Regions from separate parts of the Homo sapiens genome. Here all the other regions are linked to region 2. The links come from fine-mapping of genetic effects on gene expression. A gene starts in region 2. Each other region holds a variant in brackets. All regions are shown on one strand. Distances are between the middles of the regions.

Evidence for each region. PIP is the estimated chance that this variant, and not a neighbour inherited with it, causes the effect. A credible set is the group of variants that fine-mapping cannot tell apart.
Region 1: its variant is the best candidate, but not a certain one, in a credible set for the expression of RMDN1 in monocytes (Schmiedel 2018, PIP 0.59).
Region 3: its variant is the best candidate, but not a certain one, in a credible set for the expression of RMDN1 in whole blood (INTERVAL, PIP 0.78).
Region 4: its variant is the best candidate, but not a certain one, in a credible set for the expression of RMDN1 in lung (TOPMed, PIP 0.61).
Region 5: its variant is the best candidate, but not a certain one, in a credible set for the expression of RMDN1 in CD4 T cells (BLUEPRINT, PIP 0.74).

The regions. Positions count from the first base shown.
Region 1 is chr8:86,408,380-86,414,605 of GRCh38, reverse strand. It overlaps WWP1 (WW domain containing E3 ubiquitin protein ligase 1), which reads right to left. Exons shown (of 25, transcript NM_007013.4): 9 at 2,732-3,068. Among named protein-coding and RNA genes, the nearest start is that of WWP1-AS1, 67 kb to the right of the region's middle. The variant G/AG (reference allele first, on the strand shown) is at 3,902.
Region 2 is chr8:86,506,119-86,512,344 of GRCh38, reverse strand. It overlaps RMDN1 (regulator of microtubule dynamics 1), which reads left to right and starts at 3,659. Exons shown (of 10, transcript NM_016033.3): 1 at 3,659-3,853; 2 at 5,233-5,350. The coding sequence starts at 3,725. It also overlaps the pseudogene SLC2A3P4. RefSeq lists an enhancer at 3,745-3,914.
Region 3 is chr8:86,377,128-86,383,353 of GRCh38, reverse strand. It overlaps WWP1 (WW domain containing E3 ubiquitin protein ligase 1), which reads right to left. Exons shown (of 25, transcript NM_007013.4): 4 at 2,490-2,628; 5 at 1,725-1,849. Among named protein-coding and RNA genes, the nearest start is that of WWP1-AS1, 36 kb to the right of the region's middle. The variant T/C (reference allele first, on the strand shown) is at 2,415.
Region 4 is chr8:86,418,822-86,425,047 of GRCh38, reverse strand. All of the region lies in intron 9 of WWP1 (WW domain containing E3 ubiquitin protein ligase 1), which reads right to left. Among named protein-coding and RNA genes, the nearest start is that of WWP1-AS1, 78 kb to the right of the region's middle. The variant T/A (reference allele first, on the strand shown) is at 3,214.
Region 5 is chr8:86,466,212-86,472,437 of GRCh38, reverse strand. It overlaps WWP1 (WW domain containing E3 ubiquitin protein ligase 1), which reads right to left. Exons shown (of 25, transcript NM_007013.4): 25 at 3,935-5,644. The coding sequence ends at 5,545. It overlaps RMDN1 (regulator of microtubule dynamics 1), which reads left to right. Exons shown (of 10, transcript NM_016033.3): 10 at 1-89. Among named protein-coding and RNA genes, the nearest start is that of RMDN1, 39 kb to the left of the region's middle. The variant A/G (reference allele first, on the strand shown) is at 3,367.

The DNA of each region.
Region 1 (6,226 bases), 98 kb after region 2:
CAAAAGAAAACACAGGAACTAAGGTAAGATTTTTAAGCAAAGAGGGAAGATGATGTGGAGTTGAAAACTGCTGACTCAAAGGGTTACACAGCCTGGTGCTGTGTATGCCAGAAGAATCCACCTTGGTTCCACTCTTTTTCTATTCTATCTCCCCACAACTTATCAAGACCCATCTTATGTCAACCTAAAATATTAGCATTTACCTCACTTCAGGCTCTCTTAATTTCTCCCCTGGATTAGTGGCTTTTAAACTTTTTTTGACCACAGTTTACACAGTAAGAAGTGTGTTTTATATAAATATCTCTGTGTATACCAGATTGCTATTTATCTACTGATTTTACTTACATACACACACATACACACACACACACACACACAGAAAAACAAACTTTCAGGAAACAATGCTTATTCTTACTACATTTAACATCTTCCAATATTTCCTATTCTCGCCTATATTTCTTTATTTCATTATGTGTTCAAATGCTGGTCATAACCTATTAACGGGTTGCACTCTACAATTTGAAAAACACTAATATAGATTACTGCAAAATTCTAATACAAAGATCATAAGTGGTGACAACAAGTCTGCTGAAGCATTTATCTGGTCTCAACAGAATTAGGTTTATGTACTTACTGTTTTGAACTGGAATGCCGGCTTCCCTCATTTATAAAACAGCCTGGCTGCTATCCCAACTCCTTAACTCCTCAGCTGTCTATACCACTGCAAAAATGATCTTAATAAAAGCAAAGAGGATTATGCCACTCCCCTGCTTTACATTCTTTAATGCTTATTCGTGGTTTTCAGAAAAAACTTCCAAACCCTTCGAAATCACACAAAATTCTTCACAGGGCTGTTTTCTCTTCAGCATTATATATCTTGCTGCCTCAAATGCTGAACTCAAACTATAACAAAATAATAATTCCTGGGTTCAGCATACTCATTTTCATGGGTGCTAGGAATCTGAATGTGCAGTCGGCTCTACTGAAAATGAAATTTTCACCACTCGTGCCTCCACTATTTGCTAACTCCTCCTCTTCTTTCAGAATCCACTGACGTGTCATAGCTTTCGAAAGTATTCTTTGACGTCAACGGCGCAGGTAACTCCTCCCATTCCTTCTCTGCATGTATTCCTTGTCATGGCATCCTAAACTTACCTCTGGCATAGCTTTAATTGTACTGTATGCTGGCTGATTGTCTACTTCTCTTCCCCTCCCCCACCACTTAGACGATGAGGTTCTTGACAGTAAGAACAGCTTCTTATATGTCTTTGCCACAGTGACTGGCACATGAGAGACTAGGATAATTGACTAATTTACCAAACATGGGACACAGGACAAGAGATTTTTGAGAGGGAAAGGAAAGCTAATATAGGGTCTGAAACATTTCCAGGAAACAGAAGAGGGAAAAGTAGTTGAAAATAAGCTCAAAGAAAAGTCTGGCCTGAACATATAGATTTAATAGTTAAAATGATGGAGAGCTGGCCAGGCATGGTGGCTCACACCTGTAATCCCAGCACTTTGGGAAGCAAGGCGGGTGGATCATGAGGTCAGGAGTTCGAGACCAGCCTGACCAACATGGAAAAACCCCGTCTCTACTAAAAATACAAAAATTAGCTGGGCATAGTGGCGGGTGCCTCTAATCCCAGCCACTTGGGAGGCTAAGGCAGCAGACTCACTTGAACCTGGGAGGCGGAAGTTGCAGTGAGCCAAGATCGTGCCATTGCACTCTAGCCTGGCCAACAAGAATGAAACTCTGCTCCAAAATAATAATAATGGAGAGTGCTAGATCTACTGGGGTAAGCACACAAAGGAAGACCAAAGGCTGAAACCGTAATTAAGCAGTGGACAACATCAGACGAGCCAGTAAAGGGCACTGAGAAAAAAAAAAACAATTCCAAAAAAAAAACCAACGTACACTAACATAGTGACTGAGGTAACAAAATGAAGACAATAGTGTAGAGACATCTAGAAGTGCAGTTTCAATAGCTACAACAGTTGACATTCTGATCACTGTAAACTGTGTTGGAAAGCACGTGTCCATATATACTTTCTGACTGTACTGTATATACTGTACACGTTTACAACTGTGAATCACTAAATAAGCTTCTTGAAGGCAGAGACAATTAATCATTAATTAATATTAGTATTATCAGTGCCAAAGGTCAAAGAAATTACCGAATGGAATACACATATAGAATACTCTTTAAAGAAAATCATGGGAAGTTGAGTAATTATAATGAGAAACTTAAAAGAGATTAAGAATTACTAACCAGCAATGAAAAACTGCATTTTTAATAGAGCCAATCAGCAAGGTTTGTGACTCCCCAGCACTCAATATTAGCTGAGGAAAAGAAGAGCTATTTGCTCTCCAGTATGAGGTCTGGAAAACAGATCACCAAGGATGCCAGAGAACTGAGGATATTATATGGAGTATCATGGTCACTCTTACGAAAAGTAGAAATAAACCAAGAATCAAATTAAGAGGGTCTTGCTAATTAACATCAGGTTTTTTCTTTTCCCTTCGTACTACATATATGTCAACCAGATGAGCAATTGTTCTTAGTTTCAAAAAGTACTTGTTTTGTAGCAAGTAAATAAATAGTATGATTCAGATCCCAACTTAGATTTCAAAGTTCTGAACAATGAAAACATTTTATGCACACATTCAATAATCGTATGTTAACAGAGTTGCTACTTAAATGCAAGTCAGACATTAAAAAGCTTAACATACCCTGATGGCAAGGTTTCTGTGTTGGCATTCCCAGACTGCTGCCGTACAGGATCCATACACCCATCTGGCTGTCTTGATTTGGCTGCTTCAAAAGCAGAACTACTTCTAGAATTAGAGGTGTCAGGCTCTAATATACTTCTAGCTTCAGATTCCAATTCTGCACTGGTAGAAGGAATACATTCATTGTTTTCTGAGGAAGTCAGTATTTCTTGAACTGGAGGATCTTCAACAGTAGTACTAGTGCAATTTGGAGACAAGGCATTTTCTTCAGACACTACTGGAGTACCCGTGACAGACGCATTATCAGTTGGTGCAAATGAGGATGATTCTCCATTAACTGAGAAGGGAAAATTAATAAAATCATCTATCAAGTAATGATAAAGCAATCAATTACCTAATCAATTGACTACACTTATTCAGAGCCTAATCCAGACTAAGCAACTACAATCCATTCTCCAAACAGCAGACAAAGTAATATTTTCAAAATATGTAACATAAAATAAAATGGAGATTTTATTTTTGTTGCTCAAAATTTCAGGGATGAATATGTAAATGATAAAAATTTAAGTATGTATAATAATAACAACCTTAAGGAGAGAGGAACCAGCATTAAGATAACCAGTGTTTTCCCTCCAAATCATCAATTCTGAGAGGAAGTCTGTATGGGCCATCTAAACTCTGAAAAATGATCCCTTTCAATCGCCCTTCCCTTGTGTAAGTGGTAGCTAACATCAAACGAACTGTTTTGCCAATAGTAGGAACTGTATGATGGCATCAGTTCTTAAGATAGTACTATAGGGGTTGCAAGAACCCATTCTACACTTTTTCAAGAAATAACCCAGTACTGCAATCCAGTGACACAGTTTTCCTAATTTTCATTTTAAGTGTGATTGATCTAGTTCGACTACGTGTCACTATAAAAATGAGTCAAATTAAAACTGTAAGGGTGAATAGATTACAGAACAAAACCTACTGGAAGACCATATATCAAAGTTCTAATGGAAATGGCAGAGGGAGACATAATCACAAATTTTAGGAGAATTAATGACAAAAAGAAAACACTCAGATTAAATGCTACTGGACATGGCCAAAGAAGTACCTAAAGATGTAAGAAAGAATGGTAACAAAAGAGCTTAGAATTCATTCCAGATACAGAAAAAAAAAAAAAAA[G/AG]TAAGTAGAAGAAAATGAATTTTGGTCAAAAGACCCAAAAAAAAGATCAGAATTTCCTAATGCACCTGATAAGACTCCAGAACTTACTGAAAATATAGTATCTAAGTCCTCATCCTAGACTTACTGAATCTCTAGGGGAAATCTCTAGGGAAGAACCTGGGGATCTGCATTTTTAACAAATGCATATGATTTTTTTACTCAGGAAAGCTGGAGAAACCATGAAATATACCTTTCCAAGTGTTATAAAGAAAACATGTTTAATATAAATAACATTAGAAATACCACGTACAATTTCATATCAATGAGTTTGAAATTAGCTAAACTAACTCAAGGGAAAGAAAAAAAGACAAATCAGAGCAGCAATGGAAAAGGTGATGAAAGTTCTAATATCATCCCTCCTAAAGGCTCCAGGCTCAGAAAGGTTTTTGAGAAAATTCTATGAAGCCTTTATTGGATAGATCATTCTTATGTTATTTAAGGTGTTATAACACATTAGGGGAGAAAAAGTGAAAAGGAGTGTCCTAACTTATTCTGGGAAGGTAATGTAAACTTTCAAAGCTGAAACTGAACAACAACAGAACAAGAAGACTATAGACTAACATCATGTATAAATTCAAGGATGATTTGATATTAGGAAACTACATTAGAAAATCTACTGTTAGCAGATTAAAGGATAAACGTCATATGATTATTTTCAAAACAAACCAAAAGCATTCAAGAAAATCTTGGTAAAATGCCTGATAAGAAGAATCATGAAAAATTAAGAAGTAATCTAGATTATCTATCACAAACCTACAGTCATTAATATACAATAATTGTAAAACATTTTAAGAACTTTTTTTTTTGAGAAGGTGTCTCGCTCTGTGGCCCAGACTGGAGTGCAGTGGCACAATCACAGCTCACTGCAACCTCCACCTCCCGGGTTCAAACGGTTCTCCTTCCTCAGCCCCCCAGTAGCCGGGATTACAGGCACCCGCCACCACGCCTGGTTAGTTTTCCTATTTTTTGGTAGAGATGGGCTTTCACCTTGTTGGCCAGGCCAGTCTTGAACTCCTGACCTCAAATGATCCACCCAACTTGGCCTCCCAAAGTTCTGGGATTACAGGCATGAGCCACTGTGCCCAGCCTATTGTAAGAACTTCTATTAAGATCAAGAATAAAGTAAAATCAGGGCTGGGCACAGTGGCTCACGCCTGTAATCCCAGCACTTTGGGAGGCCGAGGCGGGTGGATCACGAGGTCAGGAGTTTGAGACCACCCTGACCAACACGGTGAAACCCTGTCTCTACCAAAAAATAGGAAAATTAGCTGGGTGTGGTGGTTGTGTGCCTGTAATCCCAGCTACTCAGGAGGCTGAGGCAGAAGTATTGCTTGAATCCGGGAGGTAGAGGTTGCAGTGAGCCAGGATCACGCCACTGTACTCCAACCTGGGCAAAAGAGCAAGACTCCGTCTGAAGAAAAAAAAAAAAAAAAAAAAAAGAAAGAAAAAGAAAAAGAATAAATTAAAATCAGCAACAAAACAAGGAAGATCACAATTACCAAGCCAATTCAGTATTGATTATATTTGACAATCCATTAAGAAAAGTCATAACAACATTGGAAAGAATATGGTAAAACTCATTTGTAGTGAAAATGACAAATAGATTATTTATTTAGAATACACAAGAAAATTTTTTTAAAAACCCCATTAGAACCAATTAATTGGAGCTAAAACATTTCAGCAAAATGAACAGACACAAGATCAACAACAAGATTACTTCAAGACCTATCCGAAGAAAAAAAATTTTTTTTTTTTTGAGACAGAGTCTTGCTCTGTCACCCAGGTTGGAGTGCAGTAGCGCGATCTCAGCTCACTGAAACCTCAGCACCCCAGGTTCAAGCAATTCTCCTGCCCCAGCCTCCCAAGTAGCAGGGATTATAGGCATGCGTCACCACACCCGGCTAAATTTTTTTGCATTTTTAGGATTTCATTATGTTGCCCAGGCTGGACTCGAACTCCTGACCTCAAGTGATTCCCCAGCCTGGGCCTCCCAAAATGCTGGGATTACAGGCGTAAGCCACTGCACAACCAGCGTGAAGAAAACACTTTAAAAAACATTACTAAAAAGAATGAATACAGACATAAAATATCTCTCAATGGGAAGATTCAGTATTGTTAAAATAATAATAAACAATAAACAACTCTCCTTGAAATGCAAATGTTGGTGAGATGCAAAGCACTAGGAATTCTCATTCACTGCAGTGGGAATGCAGGAGTACAGCCACTTTGGAAGACAGTTTGGCCGTTTGTTACAAAAGTAAACATACTTTAAAAATACAACCCACC
Region 2 (6,226 bases):
TTTCTGGCTCTATTTTTGATTCTACTTTCACATGTAAATGAAGGTTCTTAGGCACCACTAATTGGATTGCAAGTTTCAAATTTTCCAGAATATATAGTATCCATACCTAACCTTCAAAACTTTTCTTTACACTAAAATAGGGAAAGAGTAGAGGCAAGGGGATGGTTTTGTACTTTTAGTATCCAAACAGCAATCTATCATCTAAATACATAGTGCCATAGCTATTCAATGTATTTATTCATTTTCCTTAACTACAGTCTAAATCCCATTCTACTTTTGTTCTCATTCATTCACCCATTAATTTAACATGTGTTGAATTCATGTTAGATACCAAGCCTAACAAGGTTCTAGAAATAAAACACCACCTGGTGGAGAGTTAAATGCATGTTAAAATGAAAGATATTCACAAAATATTCTTTCTCCTATGTATTTTGATCCTCATATTTCTACCTTCACTCTTTCAGTCACATTTTTAATTACCTCATCCTGTCTTATAGCTTTTTTTTTTCTTTTTCTTTTTTTTTTTTTGAGAGACAGGTTCTTGCTGTCACCCAGCCAGGCTGGGATGCAGTGGTGCGAATACGATTCACCACAGCTTCAACCTCTCAGGCTTTAGCCTGAGGCGATCCTCCCACCTCAGCCAGTAGCTGGGACCTACAGGCACGAGCCACCGTGTCTGGCTAATTTTTGTACTTTTTGTAGAGATGCGGTTTCACCATGTTGCCCAGGCTGGTGTCAAACTCCTGAGCTCAAGAAATCCACTGGCCTTGGCCTCTCAAAGTGCTGGGATTACAGGCATGAGGCACCACGCCCAGCCTTAGTCTCAGAGCTTTGAATTCCATCTATATTTTCTCTCTCTTTTTTTTTTCTTTGAGACGGAGTCTAGCTCTGTCACCAGGCTGGAGTGCAGTGGTGCGATCTCGGCTCACTGCAAGCTCCACTTCCTGGGTTCACGCCATTCTCCTGACTCAGCCTCCTGAGTAGCTGGGACTACAGGCACCCGCCACCACACCCGGCTAATTTTTTGTATTTTTAGTAGAGACGGGGTTTCACTGTGTTAGCCAGGATGGTCTTGATCTCCTGACCTCGTGATCTGCCCGCTTTGGCCTCCCAAAGTGCTGGGATTACAGGCGTGAGCCACCGTGCCCGAACTTCTTTAATTTTCTTTTCTTTTTTTTTTAAAGACGGTGTCTCACTCTGTTGCCTGGACTGGAGTGCAGTGGTGTGATCACCGCTCCCTGCAACCTTGGACACTTGGGCTCAAATGATCCTCCCAGCTCATCCTCCTGAGTAGCTGGGACTACAGCATGCACCACTACATGCAGCAAATTAAAAAACAAAAACAAAAACAAAAAACAAACAACAACAAGAAAAACATGTTTTTGTAGAGACAGAGTCTCACTGTGTTGCCCAGGCTGGTCTCAAACATCCTGGGCTCAAGCTGTTCTCCCGATTTGGCCTCCCAAAATATTGGGATTACAGGTGTGAGCCACTACGCCCAGCCTATATTCTTAAGGTTATCAAACTTCCACACCTTTCCTCTGAAACTCCACACTCCAACTCTCTATGCTTTACTTGGCTGTTATATTAGTTATCAGTTGCTGTGTAACAGATTACATCAAATTTAGTGGCTTAAAACAGGAACAATCATTTATTATCTGTCATAGCTTCTGTGGTTTAGGAATTTAGAAGTGGCTTAGCTGGGTGCTTCTGGCTCATCATCTCTCTTGATGTTGCAGTCAGATATTGGCCAAGGCTGCAATCATCTGATGGCCTGACGGGCTGAAGGAGTTCTTCAGCCCAAAAGTTCAATTGTGCCAAGGCTGAGAAACCCTGCTTTAAACCGATGGGACTATACATTTAAAAAATACTAATGTCGTGAAAGACCAAGGCTGACGATTTAAAGATTTAAAGAAAGTAGAAACATAACAAATGCAAGACATTATCAAGATTTGATCTTGAATTTAGAAAAAAAAATCATTAGTATAAAGGACAGTATTGGGAATTAAACAAAATTTGTATATTAAATAATAGTATTCTGTCAATTTCAGTTTCCTGAATTTGATAATTAAACTGGGACTAAGTAAGGGAATGTCTTGTTTCTAAGACTGAAGAGTCATGATATCTGTAATCTACTCTCAAAAGGCCTTACAACAGAAAATACTAGGAATATAATATGTGTATTATAGGTAAGATATGTAAAGAAAGATAAAGCAAATGTGAGAAAAAGGTAACAATGGCTGAATCTAGCTGAAGAATATATGGGAGTTCCTGCAACTTTTCTTAGGATCTAATTTTTTTTTCAAAGCTAAAAACTTAATTACAAATTCACTCTAGCAGAGATATCAGAAACTTAATTTCACTGTTATCATGGTATCCAGTGGCATAAACATTTAGCAATGTTGAGGGGGTAGCTGCCAGTAGAAATGCATAAAATAAAAGTGATTCTGTCTTTGGGAAAAAACAGCTAGGTTTCAGAAGTTGGGAAGGAGATCTATATATTTTTAAAGATAGACTTTAAAGACATAATCCTAAAGAAATACAGCTGATTTAATGGGACTAGTGGAGGTAGCAATCATATAGTAGAAGGAGCACTGGACTCAGAGTAGAAAGACATGGATTCCTGTCTTCTAACATATCCTTGGTTAGGTTAATACATCTCTTTGAGTTACAGTTTTTTCATTTGTAAACCTGGGATACCACTTACTTCACAAGGTAGTTCGGAAGATCAATACGACTATGTATTAATTCCCTATACAGTATTAAAAGTACCATAGAAATGCAACCTAATTTTTTAAAACCATGACTCGCCTCCCTTATTACCCATAAGATTTTTCGTTAAACCCATATAGTAGGTACTCCCTTTGCAGTCTGTGTTTCCACCCACCCTGATCAGGCCTCAAGTAGGATCCAAAATTTCTTCATTTTCCCACAAAAGAATTCCACTCGAGCAAGAAATTTTATTTTACTCGAGTAAAATAAAATACTTTGCTCGAGTAAGTAAAACATCTTATTGAAGAATTTTAGGGGAGACCAGGGTTTGTTTTTGTTTCTGTTTTTTACTACACATGCCCTAGCATTCAAGGGCATCAGTATCCTTTCCAGAGGCCTCCTCCCGCTAGTTCCTCTTCCCAAAACGCTTTGCATTTTTTGTTTCTTTGCTCTGGACTCTCTCTTGAATCTACCCCCTTGAGTCGCTCAGTCGAAGAGACTGAGACTTTCCCTTCTTCATGTTGGGCAACATAATTCTTCCAATTATTTACTTCCAAAAAAGACCCACTAGTACCAAGATTCAATCTACTTTTGAAGGCAGCAGATAATTAAAATGACAATTTTTTTTCTGGCATACTTGTATTCTCGGGTCTATTTCCGAGCTTTCAGTTCTATTCTGGCGACGAATCCTTGTGCCCAAACCATGAAAGACCCCCTAGAGAGATGGAGCAGAAACAAGTCAGAGCGCCTGAAGAGAGCGCTCTCACGGCCTCAGTCCTGGACGCAGGCGCGGAAAGTCCATTAAGTCCCACCCAATCGGGGTATTTCCCACCCCCTAAGCCCGTGCACCGGAAACCATGGGGGCGGAAGAGGTGCTGGGCAGGAGGCGGAAGAGGTGCTGTGCAGGAGGCGGGCGGGCGCGGTTCTTTCCGGAAGGATTGAATCTCCTTTAGCCCCGCCCGCCTCCGTAGCTGCCTGAAGTAGTGCAGGGTCAGCCCGCAAGTTGCAGGTCATGGCGCTGGCTGCTCGACTGTGGCGCCTTCTGCCTTTCCGACGTGGAGCCGCCCCGGGGTCTCGTCTCCCTGCGGGGACTTCGGGCAGCCGCGGGCATTGCGGCCCCTGTCGATTCCGCGGCTTCGAGGTACCCCCGTGGTCCTGGCTCCCGCTCCTCACTTCCTACTCAGTGGGTTCCGGCTCCCCCTTAACTTAAGTGGTGGCGGCCCCGCGCTGCCTAAGGAATGTGGTGAACCGAGGAAAGAACTCGGGGCCACTGTGCCTGGAACGCCCGGACAGGTCCCTTCCATTTTGCAAACCTCCACTATCCTTAACTGGGGCTGTCAGAGAAGGAGTGGGGTTTGCCCCCACGCGCCCCAGAAGCTGCCTGCTACCCGCCCTTCTTGTGCGAAATGTAAAACAGGACGGGAAAGAACCTTGACCGCTGTGAAATTATTCTCCCTGTAGGCGATGACAGATACAACAGCGCTTGAGGCTGCCCCTTTCAGACTTTGAAAAGTGTGGTGTGTGATTTAAAAAGTTCTACGACTCAGAAGCAGAGATTTCATACTGTTTAGGTTTTTGTTTAAAAATGTTTATTTCTCAGTTGCCCGTTGTATCTGCATAACGTCAATGAAGGTTGTCGGCATGTTGTAGTCTCAGTTCTGGTATTTCTATTAGACTGCTCGTGGGCCTCTGTTTATTCTTGTCAGGGAATTGGAATGGCATTAATGCATATGATATATTTCACATGAACTAGGGGTTTCATTATTTTAAACTCAAATTTTTAACTGCTCAGTTAAAATCTTTCAGAATTATTATGGGACTGATGGTGGGGAGGGGTGGTTAAAATTTGGCATATTCCCCTTCCTTGGAAGTTTATAACCAAATGGGGAGGTTATAGATAATATAGGCAGAGAGATGGGAGGAGTTCTAAGTATGAAACTAGTTAGCCGTAAGTTTTCAAATTGGAACAATGATGAGTTTGAAGTCCCATTTTAGGCCTGGCCCCTTGGCTCAGCCTGTAATCCCAGCACTTTGGGAAGCCGAGGCGGAAGGATTGCTTGAGTCCAGGGGTTTGAAACCAGCCTGGGCAACACAGTGAGACCCTGTCTCTACAAAAAAATTTAAAAGTTAGCCATGTACATTTTTATATGTAGTAATTACTATATATGATAATCTTGTCTGTAAGATTCATTTTTATTATGTGTTGGTGTCTCATATTTTACTTCATACAATTTGCAATATCCATGCATTTGCAAATAAGTTGTAGCAAATAAGTTGTAGCTCTTCCTTTCCAGCAGGAGTGTGATTTTTAGATGAGCGGCGACTCCAGGGGATATCTTTTTCTCAATAAGATACGCTTTGAGATAGTTTTACTAAAGATTTTGATGAAGTAATTTTTAAGCTTCCAGTATTATGATCGATTGCTTTGGGGGTGGGAGAAAATTCATGTAATTTTTGCTTGGGGTAGCAGTACCTTCAAATTTTCAAAGTTTGTAACTCTTAACATAATTGTTTCCATAGGTAATGGGAAACCCAGGAACTTTCAAAAGAGGCCTTTTACTCTCAGCTTTGTCGTATTTGGGTTTTGAAACTTACCAGGTTATCTCTCAGGCTGCTGTGGTTCATGCCACAGCCAAAGGTAAGCATAAATTAGATATATGGAACATTTAGAGTTTTTTTGTGTGCGTACATTCAGAATTTTTATTTTAAAACAAAGAATCAGGGTAATGTTAATAATAGAAAATCCATATGGAAATATTCACAATCTGCTCAGTGAGAAATGGGAAAACAACTTCCCTGCCTAACTGCCAACCTACTGTTTGAGGAGCCAGAAGTTGACGTGAAGTTGGAAGAAGGTCACCTTTTCCAGCTAAACCCCACTCCATAGCTATGTGCATTTTTATTTGAAGTCTCCGTGACCAGAGGAAACAGTGAGAACTGAGAACCAAGATACCGTTATCAGCAAGGGTTTGGCTAAAGGGTCTGAGATGTGTAAGCACCAAGAAGGGGAAGGGAAATTGAGCAACATATGAAAAAGGGGCTGTAGGAACACAGAAAAAATAAGTCAACAATAACCTATTTCCATCCAGAGCAAAGGGACAGTGCACACATATTCATCCTCTCAAGTGTGGGCTACACTGTACATTGACTCATACTATCTCGAACATGGTCTGTTGGAAAGATTGAGACCCCCTAAGGGCACTTGGCATAGGACCACAGTGACATGGTAACAGACATAGACAAGCATGGCATGACCCTAAAGGCAACAACACACCTTTAGATAATAATCGTTCAGAAAAAAATCCCAGAGCTGAGGTTATAAATTCCAAGTTAGCTATAAACATTCTTTGGGGAATTCCTTTAAAGATATGAGTTAAAATAAAACAAAATCAACACCTAAAATCTCCTAAAGCACAAAATGGAGAAATAATGAATCTCTACCAAGAACTGATTATTTTAAGTTTCTCATTTGGATGGCTCTCCCACCAGATAGGTGGTGGGATTACTTCAAAAG
Region 3 (6,226 bases), 130 kb after region 2:
ATATGGAGGTTCAGTAGAGTCTAACATAACAGAATTGAAAACAATCTAGATGTCCAACAATGGGAATATGGTTAAATAATAATAATCCAGGCAAGGTACTGTATACTTATAAAATCTATTACTTCTTCCTGTATCAAGATGAATTGCATGACTCATTGAGAAAAAAAAAAATGCCATGGCATAGCAGAGAATCAAACTTACAATGCTTTAAGAAAAAGAAAAAGTTTTAAGCCAAATATATAAAAATTATTATGGTTTATACTAACTACTAATTACTAGTTCTAATTATTATAATCCATAATTATATTTTCTTAACTCATAACTCACTTATTTCCAAAAACTAGATCAAAACAGATCTTTAAGTTACATGTGGATTTGCAGAAAGAACCTTTTTAAAGATAACTTGCTATTTTCATCATCAGCATTTCATCCCTTACTTCATTCAGCAAACCTACTTTTAGGAATTAATAAGAGAATCTCTACAGAAATAAGAAGAGCAAAAATATTTACAGATTTGAGCAAGAGCCTATTTTTAGTGAACTGTTACAAGCTACTTAAGTGTCAGACAACGGGAAACTAAATAAATTGTGGTGTGAGAAATCATTACATGGTATTTAAAAATCATAAACTAGAACCCTGGTTTTTTGCGGGTTTGAGATGGAGTCTCACCCTGTCGCCCAGGCTGGGAGTGCAGTGGTGCAATCTTGGCTCACTGCAACCTCCACCTCCCGGGTTCAAGCGATTCTCCTGCCTCAGCCTCCCAAGTAGCTGGGACAACAGGCACATGCCACCACATTCAGCTAATTTTTGTACTTTTAGTAGAGGCGAGGTTTCACCATGTTGGTCAGACTGGTCTTGAACTTCTGATCTCAAGTGATCTGCCCACCCTGGCCTCCCAAAGTACTGGGATTACAGGCATGAGCCACCACCCCCAGCTAGAACCCTGGTTTTTAATATTCAGAGGATCACACATTTTGAGAATCTGATAAAAGCTATGAACCCTCTCCCCAGAATTACACATATATGTACATACCCCCATATTTTTGCATATGATAGGAGGTTTACAAATAATTAAACTCTAAACTACCTTAAAATCCCAGTCTAGAAAAAGTATCATGGAAACTTAATATTTATGGTATATTGTTAAATTTCTAGAAAGCAGAGGATAAACTAGTAGATGCAAAGCAAAAAAGAAATATGTTTGTGTCTATGAAAAACAAAAGGACAGTGACCAAATTATTAAGATTGGTTATCCTTGGATAGTAAAATTATAGAAAATTTTTATATTACTCTATAATTGTCTATCTTCTTCATGTTTTTTACAATAAACTAATTATATAATAATAAAAGAAAACTTAAGAGTTACAATTTATTTTACCCAAATAAAATTGTTAGTAGTCAAGTGACAAAATAGAGTAGGGTCATGTAATGATAATTTTCTCAAGTTTTAAAGAATATAATAATAAGCAAATAATAAATGACTGATAGTCACTGATAATAGGGTACTTGTGGATGACTGAGATTACCTTGTAAATCTGCAGAATGCAGAAAGGCCATGGTAAATATTTCCTATTTCATAAAATGCCACAAAGTTAATCAATCACAAGCAATAACTGAAGTTCTTTATGGATACAAAACTATGTTTTTGCTTTTAGGATTCAGGATATGTTCAAAGTGTCTAAAATAAACTTATAAGGAAATAAAGGTCAGAACAAAAAACTTACATTTTCTATTGTGTATCAACAGAGCTTGTTTCAAATCTATCGTTGCTTTTCCTAATAAAGCATCTGCTTTTAAAGTGCGATGGCTCCAAACTTGAAATTCCAATGTAGTCTGTGGCGTAACATTTCTGGAAGGGTAAAATTATTAACAAAAATACAGGAGTAGACGTTGTCATTCTATTAATAAGTAACAATTCCTATTAAAGCATTTATTTCAGTAATGTTTTAAAAACCGTGAATTTCATTTATTTGAGAAGAAATATTGTATGAAACAGGAAACTACTTGAATCATAAATAAAAATATTTTACTTTCAAATACATTAGGACTTTAATAACTAGATGAGGATTTTTGGAATCAGCAAGCCAAAACACCAACACAGGAGTCTTACTGAGACTTCATAGTAACACTGTTTGTATTTGAACAAATGTCTAAAGACTTACATGATACTTTTACTATACACAAATTTATGCCATTATTATTTTGAAATGCCAAAATTAAGAATGACTAATTTGCAGTCCTATTTATTTCTGTACCAAAACAGTCAGAGAAAATGGAAATAATTTGGTTTATAAAGCAAAAGCAAGCATTATTATGCATCCTCCCCTTAAAAAAAAAATTTAACCAAAAATTTCTCCATACTTTAAATTGTCGATCCACACTTTAAAAAAATCACTCATTACTTTGAAGTCATT[T/C]TACAAAACAAAAAACATATTCCAAAAAATACACTTTCTTGTGAAGATTTTCCGTCCTTTACACAAGGTACTTACACAGTTAGCTGTTCATCCCATTTTGGATTAGAAGAACTACTGGATTTTGCTGTTTTCGTAATTTCTCCATCTACAACTACTTCTGTATATATTGCTGTTCCGAACCAGTTCTTTTTTCTTTTAAGTTTGGCACTAGAAACTAACAGACAAATAATTCACTAGTGAGTATGTGTTGCCAAAAAGTAGTACTGCACACTAATCAATCAATAAGAATGGAATTGTGCTTCTTGTGCAACTAGAACTCTTCTCGTTGGCAGAATGAAGAAACAATACAAAAGGGCTACTGATAATGCTTGAGAGCCATTTGAATGTTTCTGTAACAGTTTTAGTGAGCTATCATTCACATATCATATAATTCACCCACTTAAACTGTACAATTCAATGGTTTCACTATATTCAGAGTGGCACAACCATCACCACAATCAATTTTAAAACAGTTTTGTTACCATAAAAATAAACTCCATACCATTAAGCAGTCACCCCCTTCTTTCTCCTCCCAATCAACCCTCTCCCCACCCCCATCCCTAGGCAGCCACTAACCTACTCTCTGTCTCTTTAAATTTGCCTATTCTGGACATTTCATATAGATGGAATCATATAATGTGGGTTTTTTTTGTGACTGGCTTCTTTCACTCAGCATTACATTTTTGAGGTTCATCCATATTGTAACATGCACCAGTACTCCACTCCTTTTCTTGCCAAATACCATTCTATTATATGGGTATATGACATTTTATCTATTAACTGATAAATATATGAACTGCTTCCACTTTGTGGCTATTGTGCATAAAGCTGTTATGAACATTTGTGCACAGGCTTTTTTGTGGACGTATGTTTTCATTTCTCTTGGGCATATACTTTGGAGTAGAACTCCTGGCTCATGTGATAACCCTCTGTTGAGTAACTGCCAGGCTATTTTCCAAAGTGGCTGCACCATTTTATATTCCTATCAACAATATACACTGATTTCTCCACATTCTCACCAACAACTGCATTAAAGATCAAGGGAAAAGTGTCTTCAGATTCAACATGCCCATTAACATCCCTGCCAGGTACTATTAACTTGTCTTTCTGAAATTACATAACTGTGGCACTTAAAAAAATGCTTTAATGTTTTATCTGGAAAGTTAGCTTCGAAAAGAAGTAGTATTTGCATTTTCAAATAAAAGCTTAAAAATCAAAATGTCATTATAAAAGTTAATCATAACCCCTTCCAGAAAGTGAAAATCTAATATACCTGAGATATGAAGAAATCAGGGACTATCTACTTTCTGGGCAAAATACTGATGAACAGGCAGTAAGAACAACTTATCAAGATCACCTCTATAATCAATTACCTGTGAACACCCTAGATCAGAGATGAGGAAGGGAAAAGCCTCTTTCATGTCATACACACCGGATGTTAAGGATATAAAAACAACCAAAGCTATGTAAGCTTCCATTCTATTGTGAGAGAATAATAATCTAAATAGTCACACAAATAAATCACTGAAATACAATGTGATAAATGCAAGATTCCAAGCAAATACTATATTTAAGTACCGGCAACATAGCAATTAAAGAGTGTTCAATGTTATGTCTGAACTGCTACTACCAGGGTCTTAGCAAAACTCATTTCCATCCTTCATCGTTCCAAACTGCTCTAAGTTCAGCGCCACTGGACTAATATAGAAGGCCCAGACTTGCTCTCTCCCAAGAAACTTCCCAAGATTCTTTGAATAAAAGTGCTCATATATTTCCTCAGTATATGTAAGTCTTATCCATATAGCAGAAGACTGGAAGAAGGAAAAGTCAGTATATGATGGTGTTAAAAGCAGAGGGATAGACATATCTGGGTTCATTTTTCAAATGTGCCACTTACTAAAAGCCTGACCACAGTAAGTCAATTAATTTCTCCATCCCTTACTTGAAAAATCAGAAGAACAGCAGTACCTGATTCTTAGGATTGGTGAGTGAAGGCATGCAAGGCACTATCACCATCAATGAATGTCTGGCATCCAACAATGGTAGCTGTTACTCTATTATTACTGACTATATAGTATTAACTCTTCTCTGAGTTCATTACAGATCCATCCAAAATACGTCCACTGAATACCCTTACTTGGCAAAATACTCAACAATACTAGAGGGTAAGGTAAGAAAAGAGATTTTTCAAAGATAATAATCTTTAATCTCATGAGGAATTTATAAATATGCTAGCAAAATGTACATATAAATAATGTGATTTTAAATAACTAGAAGACAACCTTATTAATTCAAAAAGTTGTTCTAGTTAGTAGAATATATAGATTTTTTTTCTCATTTAATGAGTTTCCTTTGGTGTTATACACAGAATGTCCTCCACTCTAAGGTTATATAAGTATTTTTAAACTATCAGAAAATGAGTCACCTGTGAGAGGGTAGGGAGAGTTAACTCAAAAATCCCACTCACAATAACATCCCTTCAAAAAATCTAGTAATAAACTTAAGAAATAAGTAAGAGTCACATGAAGAGAACTATAAAACTTTACCAATGGAAACAAAGGCTTAAAAAAAATGATATGATATATTCCTAGATTTGAAAAGTTTAACATTGAAATATTTCAATTAGCTCCAATTTAATACATTATTTTAAAATAAAAACACCAACTGATTGGTTTTGAGTGTTTTTGGTGGGGGCAGAGGAAAAGGAAGGGAGACTTAAATATTCAAATAAAAGCCAAAGAAAAATCAAGAACAGTAAACGTGTATTTTAAAATGCAAAGTAATAAAAGGAAATTTCTCAAAATATTTTTTTAAAAAGTACCATAAAGTGAAAATAATTAAAATGGTTTGACAGTGATGTAAAAGAGAAGTAAAGAGAAAAGCAAGATACTAATGCATAACAGTGGCATTTCAAATCAATGGGAAGATAGATGAGACCATAAATTTTGAAACATTTGAAAAGAATGAAGTCTATAATTCACACCACTCATACAAAAATAAGTGGTATATGATTTGACACTTTTACTTTAAAAAGTGAAAATGCTTTAGAAGACACAATAGCTAAAAAAAAATTATAAACATGAATACAACAGCCCATTTTTTCTTCAATCTCATCCTTTATACATCTTGCATACTCTATGCTTCTGACAGTTTCCTGTTGAAAGTCTAAAATCTAAAATATCGAAGATAATACACTTCTATATGCTACTATCCTTGAGTAGCTGGTACATTACAGTATATTACTATATGACAATAGGTAGTTTTCTGTTTGATTTTTTCCATCAGTTTTTCCGCGTTCCATGATCAATGCTCTTATTCTTACATGTTGCTGCCAATCAGATAAGGGTTAAGAACAGAAATGAGGATAAGAGTAAATATGCTAAAAATAAAAAAAAAAAATTGGCTTAGGGCAGAGAACCTCGGTTTACAGACAATAAACAGCCAGACTGCAATATTAGAGGGGTCTTAATCTGAGTACTTACTGTTTTTAAAAAGAAAAGAAAAGCCTGGGCGTGGTGGCTCAGCCTGTAATCCCAGCACTCTGGGAGGCCGAGGCAGGCGGATCACCTGTGGTCAGGAGTTCGAGACCAGCCTGGCCAACACGGTGAAACCCCGTATCTACTGAAAATACAAAAAAAAAAAAAAAAATTAGACAGGAATGCTGGCATGCACCTGTAATCTCAGCTATTTGGGAGGCTGATGCAGGAGAATCACTTGAACCCAGGAGGGGGAGGTTGCAGTGAGCCAAGATCACGCCACTGCACTCCAGCCTG
Region 4 (6,226 bases), 87 kb after region 2:
AATTATTAGTACTTTTTTAACCTCTTAATTATTCCCTTTTTATTACAGTATTGGAAACTCAAAGTATAGTTAGCAGAAAAGGAAGAGAATACCCCACATTTTAAAAAGTTACTTACAGAATTCCAAATTATCAGAAAACAGAAATTGAATCAAGAATTAAGAAACCTCTCCCTCTCCCCTCCCCTCCCCCTCCCCCTCCCCTCCCCTCCCCCTCCCTCTCCCTCTCCCCACAGTCTCCCTCTCCCTCTCTTTCCACGCTCTCCCTCTGATGCCAAGCCGAAGCTGGACTGTACCGCTGCCATCTCGGCTCACTGCAACCTCCCTGCCTGATTCTCCCGCCTCAGCCTGCCGAGTGCCTGCGATTGCAGTCGTGCGCCGCCATGCCTGACTGGTTTTCGTATTTTTTTGGTGGAGACGGGGTTTCACTGTGTTGGCCGGGCTGGTCTCCAGCTCCTAACGGCGAGTGATCTGCCAGCCTCAGCCTCCCGAGGTGCCGGGATTGCAGACGGAGTCTCGTTCACTCAGTGCTCAATGGTGCCCAGGCTGGAGTGCAGTGGCGTGATCTCGGCTAGCTACAACCTCCACCTCCCAGCCGCCTGCCTTGGCCTCCCAAAGTGCCGAGATTGCAGCCTCTGCCCGGCCGCCACCCCGTCTGGGAAGTGAGGAGCGTCTCTGCCTGGCCGCCCATCGTCTGGGATGTGAGGAGCCCCTCTGCCCGGCTGCCCAGTCTGGGAAGTGAGGAGCGCCTCTTCCCGGCCGCCATCCTGTCCAGGAAGTGAGGAGTGTCTCTGCCTGGCCGCCCATCGTCTGAGATGTGGGGAGCGCCTCTGCCCCGCCGCCCCGTCTGGGATGTGAGGAGCGCCTCTGCCGAGCCGTGACCCAGTCTGGGAGGTGAGGAGTGTCTCTGCCCGGCCGCCCCATCTGAGAAGTGAGGAGCCCCTCTGCCTGGCAGCCGCCCCATCTGAGAAGTGAGGAGCCCCTCCGCCCGGCAGCCGCCCCGTCTGGGAAGTGAGGAGCGTCTCCGCCCGGCAGCTGCCCCGTCCGGGAGGGAGGTGGGGGGCAGCCCCATAAGCGCTAACTTAAGTTAGCGCTTATGGGGGCAGCCCCCGCCCGGCCAGCCGCCCCATCTGGGAGGGAGGTGGGGGGCAGCCCCCGCCCGGCCAGCCGCCCCGTCCGGGAGGGAGGTGGGGGGCGCCTCTGCCCAGCCGCCGCCCCGTCCGGGAGGTGGGGGGGGGGCGCCTCTGCCCGGCCGCCCCTTCTGGGAAGTGAGGAGCCCCTCTGCCCGGCCGCCACCCCGTCTGGGAAGTGTACCAAACAGCTCATTGAGAACGGGCCATGATGATGATGGCGGTTTTGTGGAATAGAAAAGGGGGAAATGTGGGGAAAAGATAGAGAAATCAGATTGTTGCTGTGTCTGTGTAGAAAGAAGTAGACATAGGAGACTCCATTTTGTTCTGTACTAAGAAAGACTCTTCTGCCTTGGGATGCTGTTGATCTATGACCTTGCCCCCAACCCTGTGCTCTCTGAAACATGTGCTGTGTCCACTCAGGGTTAAATGGATTAAGGGCAGTGCAAGATGTGCTTTGTTAAACAGATGCTTGAAGGCAGCATACTCCTTAAGAGTCATCACCACTCCCTAATCTCAAGTACCCAGGGACACAAACACTGTGGAAGGCCGCAGGGTCCTCTGCCTAGGAAAACCAGAGACCTTTGTTCACTTGTTTATCTGCTGACCTTCCCTCCACTATTGTCCTGTGACCCTGCCAAATCCCCCTCTGGGAGAAACACCCAAGAATGATCAATTAAAAAAATAAATAAATAAAATAAATAAATAAATAAAAATAAAAATTACCCTTTTTCTGACATTTGATATTTATCTAGGATTACAATAATTATGCTAATTAGTTCTAGTCTATTTTTGTCTGAATACATTTTAGGTATTCAATAAACACTAATTTTCAGTTTCCAAAAAAAAAAAAAAAATGAAGAAACCTTCAACTTAATATTAAATCCAAGGCACAAAGTGTCTATGAAATAATATACTGATTTTGCTATAATTTCAAAAGTACCCATCTAAAAGATTTTTAGCAGAAATCGCCTTAAAGAAATATGTGGTGATACTGCCCCATGAAAATTCTTTCATCTGTGTGCACAGTATCTTTTCATTGTGCATATCTATCCTAATTTTGGTTCTGGTTTTGGTAGGTCTCTGAATTTATGGAAATGACGTTTTTATCTTTTTCCTATTCTATTTTGAAGACTCTCAATCTCTTGTTTCTCCCATTCTCATTTTTTCTTCTGTGATTCCCGTTAATTTCTCTTTAGTCTTCTTAATATGGTAAAGAAGAATAATTTTTAAAAATAAAAACTGGTGGGCCGGGCGTGGTGGCTCACACCTGTAATCCCAGCACTTTGGGAGGCTAAGGAGGGTGAATCACCTGAGGTCAGGAGCTCAAGACCAGCCTGACCAACATGGAGAAACCCCATCTCTACTAAAAATCCCAAAGAAAAAAAAAAATTAGCCAGCCATGGTGGCACACACTCCTGTAATCCAAGCTACTCGGTATGCTGATGCACGATAACTGCTTGAACCCAGGAGGTAGAGGTTGCAGTGAGCCAAGATTGCACCGCACTCCAGCCTGGGTGACAGGGCAAGACTCTGTCTTAAAAATATAAAATAAAATATAAATAAATAAATAAATAAATAAATAAATAAATAAATAAATACAAACTGGTACTTCTGAGTTTAAGACACTAGTTTTCAATTTTAAAATACAATAACCAGAAAATATTTTCCTTTTTCTTAAACACAAGAACTCGAGAAGGCAGTGTTTCGGAAGCGACATGAGAGAGTATTCCTGGGGTGCTGACAATGTTCTCTTTCTTGACTTGTGTGATGGTTACAAATGTGTATTTTGTGATAAATCAGTTTCATCTATATATTTTGAAGGAAAGTACTTTTCTGTGTATGTGTGATGTTTCACAATAAAAGATTCTGTTTTTAAATGTGAGTGCTTATCAAGAAGCCCTAACTTGGAATGGTGAGTTTTGATAAGTTGTCCTGCACCAAGAGGGAGGCTCAAGGATCTCCCATAAAGAATCCAGCACTCTTTCCTTCTACCTCCCTTCCCCATCTGCAAAATTTTGAGAGAGGATCAAATAGCTTTTCCCGATTATTTGTTAATATGGTAAATTTATATTTTCAAAAAAAA[T/A]TTTTTTTTTTTGAGATGGCGTCTCGCTCTGTCCCCCAGGCTGGAATGCAGTGGCGCAATCTTGGCTCATGTAAGCTCCGCCTCCCGGGTTCACACCATTCTCCTGTCTCAGCCTCCCAAGTAGCTGGGACTATAGGCGCCAGCCACCACGCCCAGCTAATTTTTTGTATTTTTAGTAGAGACGGGGTTTCACCGTGTTAGCCAGAATGGTCTCAAACTGCTGACCTCGTGATCCTTCCGCCTCGGCCTCCCAAAGTGCTGAGATTACAGGCGTGAGCCACCATGCCCGGCCTATTTTCAAATATTAAATCAATCTGGGAGAACCCCCCCAAAAAAGAACCCAATTAAATTTATTTTTTTATTAAGAGTGCTTATTTTCTTTAAATTATTTTTATACACGATAACCATATATACTGAAACTACTCCCTAGTTTGCACCCATAAACACATACATACTTAAAATGACAAATGCACACAAAAAATTTAAAAAATTGTTTAGCCTGCATCTAACAAACCTAAGTCACAAAATGCTTAAGTAGTAACCATAAAGATTCCCAAGTTCAGAACTGACTCGGGATCACAAAAATTATTAAACTTGCCTATTATATCCTACACTGGAACACTCATGATATTCAGTACTGTAAAAACTTAGATATTTCTTATAAAGCATTTCACTAAAATCAGACAATCTGAAAGTTATGATTTACTTTATTTGTTTATATAAAAAGCTCACGGGAAAGAAGGAGTTAAATATAAAATTTCATTTTAAAGGCCTGTCAGGAATATGTCTAACATGTAACAATGGGCTATTCTGTATGAAAGCTTAACTACCAAAACCAAATGAATACCTAAAAACCTGATCAAGTTTCACTTTTGCTATTTTTAGGTAATAATTCCCATAAGCAGTCCTTGAATTTTTATTGCTGTCCTACAGCAAAATTTCCTGGTTTCAACTGTTTCTTCACAAATATCCTTTACTATTTTTAATTTAGCTTTAATTTTTTATCAAAATTACATATACTTTCAGATAGTTTAAAATATACCTTCATAGCTATATAATTATATATACCTTCACATAAACAGAGTCATACAGTCTGTGAGACTTATTGCAAAAAACAACAGTACCTACTGTCTCTTTCACTTCATTTTCCACTCCCCAAGGCAACATTTTCAACTGTTTCAGTCCATTTTTTTGGTATTTACTTCTTTTACTTATTAACTTCCTTGACTTATTGTGATTTGTTTAATTTCAAACATAATGTATTGACTTTTTATTAGGAAAGGTGAAGCTGCAGGTCTCTTTCCTGCACACATACACATCTACACTTACCCTCCTCCCAACCATTCCAAATATACACATATGTTGTACCTTCCCTTACAGTTATCATTATGACTATGTAAACTCTCCCCACAGATGAGCCATGGAACATACCCCAATTTCTTTTTTTAAAAAATACTATTAGCTAGAAAAATTATCTCCACTTCCATTTGCTTATTGTCTACATTCTTATCGTTAAACCCCAAATACTTTTCCAGTTGCATAAATCTCCTCTTAAAACGTTCAAGCTCATTAGCTGTTCTATGATTGCACCTGCCTTCTGATTAGCTTCTAGTCTAGAGTGAGTGCTGTCTGAGGCCAGTTTGGGCTTTCCTTTATCATTGTGCGGCATTCCTTTCACTCCTCTCCTAGCAGACCCTCTAATTCCTGCCTCCAACGTCTTTTACTTTCACTACCCAGTTTTGGGAAAACACAAGTCCTAGTAGCTTTCTAAGAAAGAAGACATAAGAAGTGAACTTTTGGAAACCTAGGATATGCATAGAATGTATTTATTCTATGCAAACACTAAACAGTGTGGCTGGATACAGAATTATATGTTGGGCATAATTTCCTTCAGCATTTAAGGCATGGACCCACTCTCTTCCACTGTCTTCTAGCTTTTCGTGTTGATTCTAGGAAATCTGATGCCATTCTGATTATTATGAAACCTGCTTTTTCAATCGCTGAAAATATTTAGAATTTAATTGGCCCCAATGTACTAAAATTTTCACAACAAATTGTCTTAAAATAGATCTGTTTTCATTTATCATCCTGGATTTTTAGTGAGTCTTTTCAATGAAGAAATTTGTGTTTATTCTTCAATAAAGAAATTTGTGTTTGTTATTTTGTTAAGGACTTCCTCCCATTTTCTCTCTTTCTAGAACTTTTCTTATCAGACTGTCTGAACTGGTCCTTATGTGTTACTGTCTGGCAAATTTCTTTACCTTTATCAGTCAAATTTCACACTGAATTAAATTTCCAAGAGTTTTTTAGTCCTTTGAGTATTCCATTTTTATAGCATTGGGTTCTTGTTGTATGTATGTTGTATCTACTTTTATCCCTCAGAGGATATTAAAATAGTCTGTTATCTTTTGTTTTTTGAGATGGAATCTCGCTCTGTCACCCAAGCTGGACTGCAGTGGTGTGATCTCAGCTCACTGCAACCTCCGTCTCCCAGGTTCAAGCGATTCTTCTGCCTCAGCCTTCTGAGTAGCTGGGACTACAGGCGCGTGCCACCATGCCTGGCTAATTTTTGTATTTTTAGTAGAGACAGGGTTTTACCATATTGGCCAAGCTGGTCTTGAACTCCTGACCAAGTGATCTGCGTGCCCAGGCCTCCCAAAGTGCTGGGATTACAGACGGGAGCCACCGCGCCCAGCCCTAGTCTGATATCTTAAAACAGTATTTTCTAGGTTGTTTTTTTGATCTCTATCTTTCAAATTAAGAGGTTTCCCTCAGATATCTAATGAGAAGGGCACTGAAAACTGACTGGGAGTTTTATGTGCCTGGGTGGGGCTTGTGGATTGTGGATTAATTAAAGAGTGATAATAATGGGACTGTTTTGTTAGAGAACAATCTATATTAGTATTTTCAGTGTTTTGGAGAGGTCTTCAATAGAAGATACTGTTAGTCTCCTGGTTGAGGAGGTAAAATCCTGGTTGTCAATATTCTGGGATCTGTGTTGGGTGTGTATTTG
Region 5 (6,226 bases), 40 kb after region 2:
TTTCTAGGGATGTGGCATTCTGCTGGATGGCTTTTTAAAATGGGTTTTTTCCTTTAGGGAGACCGAATAAACTGTGTTGTGCACCTGCATTTTGACTGTGACCTGTTATGTGAGGTCAGATGTGGAATTTTCTACCTGTAGCATCATTTTGGTGCTCAGAAAGTTTTGAATTATGGAGCACGAATTTCAGGTTTCAGATTTTTGGAAATAGGGATGTTCAACCTGTATTTATACATGTGTGTTTGTGTGTGTATAGACACATACATTTCTAAACCTTTTGAAACTGATTGCAAGCATCATAATAGTTCACCCCAAATGTGTCAGCATGCATTTTCTCAGAATAAAGACATCTTCCTAAACAAACACAAAACCATTATCACAACTGGAGAAGTTAACAGTTCTCTAACATCATCTAATATCTACCCATATTCAAATTTTCTCAAATGTCCCCAAGATGTCTCATGCTTTCTAAAATCAGGATCCAAAGATTATACATTGCATTTGATTTGTTGCTAATCTTTCCATCCACAACAGTTCCCCATCTTTTTCTTCTTGCAACATTGACTTTTTGAATAGGCCAGTCCGGTTGTCATAGATTCTCTCGCATTCCAGATTGGTCTAATTGACCACACTTTGAGAACCGCTGTTCCAACTTATTTCCAGGACTCAAATTAGTTCTATTAGATCTTTGCCTGACTTTCACATTTATCACTTACTGATTTTTCTTTTAGCCTTTTTGTTTCATTTTCTTGGCTCTTTTCATTTATATCTTCCATATCCCTTATTTTACATTTGGTTGTATCTCTTCTTCCTTAGATACTTTATAATTGCCTTCACATCTGATATGTGTTTGTCTTTTTCTCCGAATTTTTTTCCTGATTTTAGCCAGTCATTCACATCTGCATTTTGTTTGTCCAGTTCTGAGTTTTTAAGTTGCTATTTCAGATTTTTTAAATATCTAATAATTTAATTCATATTAGCATATTGTGTTAAAGTTTACTCTCCTTTTTCTCATTTTCAATTTCTCTTTAGAGTGACTTTATTTTTTTTCCCTAGGGATGTAATTTTATGTTGAGTTACCAGCAATACTAGGTCATCAAATGGGAAGAAAGGGTCTGGGTTAGTTCAAGAATATTTTCTGCTTAGTTGTTTGTTTTTTGTGAGATCAGGTATCATTCAATAATAAAGCTTTTTATGGAGGTCTTACCTCCTGATTCCTTATTAGAACTTTAAAAAATATTTTTACTTTCAAAAAATCATAGATTCACAAATTGAAAAAAAAAAAAAAAAGATCCTGTGTACCTTTCTCTCAGCCTATCCCAGTGCTAACATCTCATATAACCTGTAGTACAATAGCAAAACCTGGAAACTGACATTGGTACAGACCACAGACCTTATATTTAAATTTTACCACTTTTAAATGCTCTTGTGTGTATAGTTGTATGCAATTCTATCACATGTAGATTTTTGGTAACTGCCACCATAATCAAGATACAGACCTGTTCCGTCATCACAAAGATCCCCAGTGCTGTCCCTTTACAGTCACACCCATCTACCTCCTCCTCTCCCCCACCCATCCCTAACTCTGACAGCACTAATCTGTTCTCCATAATTTTGTTATTTCAACAATGTTATACAAATGGAATCATACAGTGAGACCCTGTGATACTTTTTTTCACTCAACATAATTCCCTTGAGACCTAAGTTCTATCAATAGTTTGTTTCTTTTTACAGTTGACTAGTATTTCATTTTATGGGCATACCATATCAACCATATGCTGAGGGGCATTTAGGTTATTCCTGATTTTTAGCTATTACAAATAAAGCTGCTATGAGCATTATATGCAGGTTTTTATGTCTACATAGATTTTATCTCTCTGGGATACATGCCCAGGAGTGTGGCTCCTGGGTCCTTTTATCTTCATTTTTCCCCTTTACTCTCTGAGGGTTAGGTTTCTTCTGCAAGACATGGTGCCTTCCCAAGATTCTGATTCTGTGCACTAAGTCTCTTCCATTTGACTTCCCAGGAGCCTGATTCCCCACGTGTCACATTGGTCCGTGACGTTTCCCCACTAAGGGTGAGACCCATTACTGAGAACAAACCCCAGGAATCCCTTACATTCTCCTTCCCGTGCAGCCCCCACCTGATTGTTCTTGTGTGGATTCCAGAGCTGACTGCTGGATTGAGATGCTTATTTCCCCACGTACATGTATATCAAAGTAAGTTGGTAGTACTCTGTGTTCTAAGTGTTATTACATACATAGGCTATATCTCTCCATTATAGATGTTTCCTTCCTTCCTTTTGAGGATATGAGTAGAATACTGATTTTGGAAAATGGCCGTGATTCTATAAGAACCTAAAAGCTCTCAATTTCTTGATGGCCAAGTTATCTCAACTGAGTTTTTAATCATGGGCTGTGTACTAGCTGTGGGTGTTGTAAAAATGGCTTCTCTCATACTCACTTTCCTCATGTATAAAATAAGCATCATTAAAGACAACCCCACCAATTTCATGGAATTGTAAGGATCAAGAGAATAATTTATGTAAAGGATTTACCATGAATACCAGTAAATACAACTACTATTATCTCTGATTTTGTTCTTGGTTGAGAATTGAGGAGAGAAATTTTGGAATATAGGAGATGTCACTTTTGGACTTAGATCAAATCCTCAGTTGACCTAAAGCTTGGCTTTTAAGGCCAACTGAGTGTTACAGGAGAACTTTTAGTTGTGTATTATTTCAACAGAGGAAGATTTTTACTTCTGCAACATCCACCACATCATCTTAGGTTCAACCAAACATTCAGACTTAATAAGTCTACAATAGGCTGTATTTGGCACCAGTCTACTCAGAAGGCTATAGGACAGGAACCACACAGCTCACCAGCAGGACAATTTTGAACCTCCTCTCAGAAGACGGTCTTCTAACAGCAATCTATGAAATGGTATCTCCCCAGGTGACAGCTCACGGTCCTCCTTAAAGGACATACAGTTACAAGAGTTTTCCACTCAGGTATGCCCAAAGCTGTGGCTTTCTGTCGTGTATCTGGAGATTTCCCAGTCCAGATGCAACTTACCAGTCAGGGTCATATTTACCAAAAGCAAAGCTGCATGGCAATAAATACAGTTGACACATACCATCCTATTTAGTTGTCAGGGTAGGAAGAGCTAGGTAGTTAACAGAAGTCATCAGGGGAAAAGGTTTTGTTAACCTTTTCATTTTCAACTACTTGGGAAGTACATGGGGGGGGCGGGACAAACAAACAAAAAAAACACTGGTAAGCTGCTTTCCCTGGAAGACAAACAACTAAACTGATCTAACAGATAGAATTGTGTTGCTTAACTGATCTAACAGACAGAATTGT[A/G]TTGGGCCTGTGAGCTATTCCCTGGGCCATTTACTGGTGGTGGGGGTGGGGGAGTCACCAAAATGAAGTAGCAATATAAACCTGTCTCTGAGCCTCCCTCTTGTCTGTTTCCTCATGAACTGTGTTTTGGGCACAGAGAGTCTTGCACTCCTAATTTCTTTCGGTTAGTCCAGCACAGAACAGGAATGGGAAGGGAAGAAGGGGAGAAGGTGAGTGGGGGACCATATTTCTACAGTTTTTCTGACTGCTACTGGGTAGATAAATCAAGAGCTCTGCCTGTAGGTCTTGGATATCTATAATTGGGTATGAAAAGTGGAAGACCCTGATGAATTCTCCAAAACAAAGCTGGTTTTGTCTCTTGTAGGGTTCTGTGTAGCCTCACCTAGTGCATCGTAATTTCTTACTTGAGGGAGACCAGCACCCTGAAAACGAACTGGAAAGCTGCCTTCTTCAGTCAAATCTGCTAAATCATACCTACAATGAATGATATTCAATAACTTCTGTCATGGCAAAATTTATACAGCAGTGGTACCATTTGTAATTCTAATACTTAACTCTTTTATGGTATACGCAGTCCTTTTTGAAGGCCAGTTTCCCTCTATCACATAACCTGTCACATACATTAGAATTTTTTTTTTAATTCTTTAGGCTTGAAAATTACCAGAGTGTTCATAATAAGGATTTGGAAAAGGAGTCTATTCAACCAAGCAGATCTCTGCCTTTCTTTCGTCTTTACTATGAATTCTGAATAAAATGGAGAACACACTCTCAATATGTAGAAAAATAAAATTTTGGCAAAACAATAATTACTGTTTTTCTGTATGTACTTAGCAGTGAAATATTTATAGGCAACAGATTTTAAGAAGTCAGTTCCATGGCTATTAAAAAATGTTTAAGTTAATGAAATTTACAGTGCATATTAAAAGCATGATACAAATGGAAATTTAAAATTTTGTATTAGGAAGCCCAGTTTGCTAAAAGTAGCATTAATATCATTCACATCAGATTTTAATTTGTTACACATTTTTGTAGTTCAGCAAAGGCCCCTATGATGAAAAACAATTAAAAAGTGTTATGACAAAAATAATTATCTGTGTAAAAAGGGGGAGACCCAAAAGATTTTTCATATGGTTATTTAATTCAGTTAAATAGAACTGTTATGAATTTGAGAGGAATGAAGATATTCAAACACTAACAGAAAATCATTAGCCTTATATTAGAGCATTCAAATGCTTATGTAACTCTTCAATCCATCTGGCTTCATAAAAACCAAAATTTTGAACACAAAAAAGTGGCAGAGTTTACATTACCTTTTGTATGTTCCTAAGTATGAAATTGCATCAATTTATTATGAATTAAATTTGAAAAGCATCACAGATTTAAAAACAAAGTACAAAAGAGCCTGATTCTTTTTAATTCCACAAATACCTAGCATCTCAAAGTAACATGTAAACAAACTTCTATGCTGCTCAATGAATCCTTCCAATTTCGATAATAAACTAAATAGTATTGGATCTAGTATATGACTTTCATGTGTAAGTTATGGTTCTATCCATTACTTTAACAATATTACTGATGTAACAGAGAAAAATTTTCAACTATTGTATTTATTTAAAACAAACTGACAAGTTCAAGCACCTGTCTTCAGAAAAGCCAGCAGCATTTTTTTTTTTTTAACATACTCAAAGTAAGATTTGGCCTAAGCCCTTAATACCTTTCTGAACAGCCATGCAACTAAACACCCTCAGGAGATGTTACATAAGGGAGAGAAGAACATGGAGCAATTTGCACTTTTTCCCCTAGATAATATTAACAAGGTAAAGCAAATCCAGATCTTTATGAATGAATGGCTGTCATGTTTAATACACTTGGAGCTCTATAAAACTAGAGCCACTATCATATATGTTTATATAGATATATATGTATTTTTAATAAAGTCTCTCACTTGCTTCAAAATTTAAGGATGATCTTTTTCCTGGTCAGTCATTTCAAGGGAACAATAAATAAAGTAGAAAAGGATGAACTGTTTTGCATATTTCTGTGGAAGAACGGAAAACATACTTTGAGAGGTTCGGAAAATTCACTGTACAGAATGAACAGCTTATATACACTATCTGTGCAATTTTTCTTGGCTGGGGTATTTAAATGCAAGAGCTCCTCCAAAATAAGAAGCCACATTCATTCTTGTCCAAATCCCTCTGTCTCTTCTATTGCAAAAAGAAGTTTTTCCTTTAGTTGTTCATAACTCTTATATGGTGGTAGATCCAAGCGATTAAAACTGAACAGAAACAAAAACAAAATCAGATGTTTTCAATAAAATGAAAAAAATCTAATAGAATACTTTTCAAAGCACATAGAAATGCTGAATGGATATATGTATACTATATATGTTAAAATTTTGCCAGAAGTATTTAGAGTAATCTAAATTTAAGACTTACATATAAAAACTATTTTAACATCTCCAAGAGGAAAATGGAATTACAAATAATAAGTGTAGCAATATGGATAAAGACAAATTTAAAAAAAAAAAAAAATCCATTTTCTTTTTACTATTCCTGTTACATGTGTCATGAGTCCTCTTAACTTCTCTTAGGATAAGAGTCCATTTCTTTCATCCACTCAGTCACTCATTCATCAGTCATTTACCGAGAATTTTTTATATAACTGATAAGCTAGTGATACAGTGAAGAAAACTAAAATCCCTGTCTTCATGGAATTTACATTCTGGGGTAGAGACAGTCAATTAACAAATATATATGTTTCTTTGTCTTTTCAAATAATCTAACCACATATATAAACTCTTCTAAAATGACACTTTTTCAATCTTGCCATACTCAATTCCATTCTGGTATTAACTGAT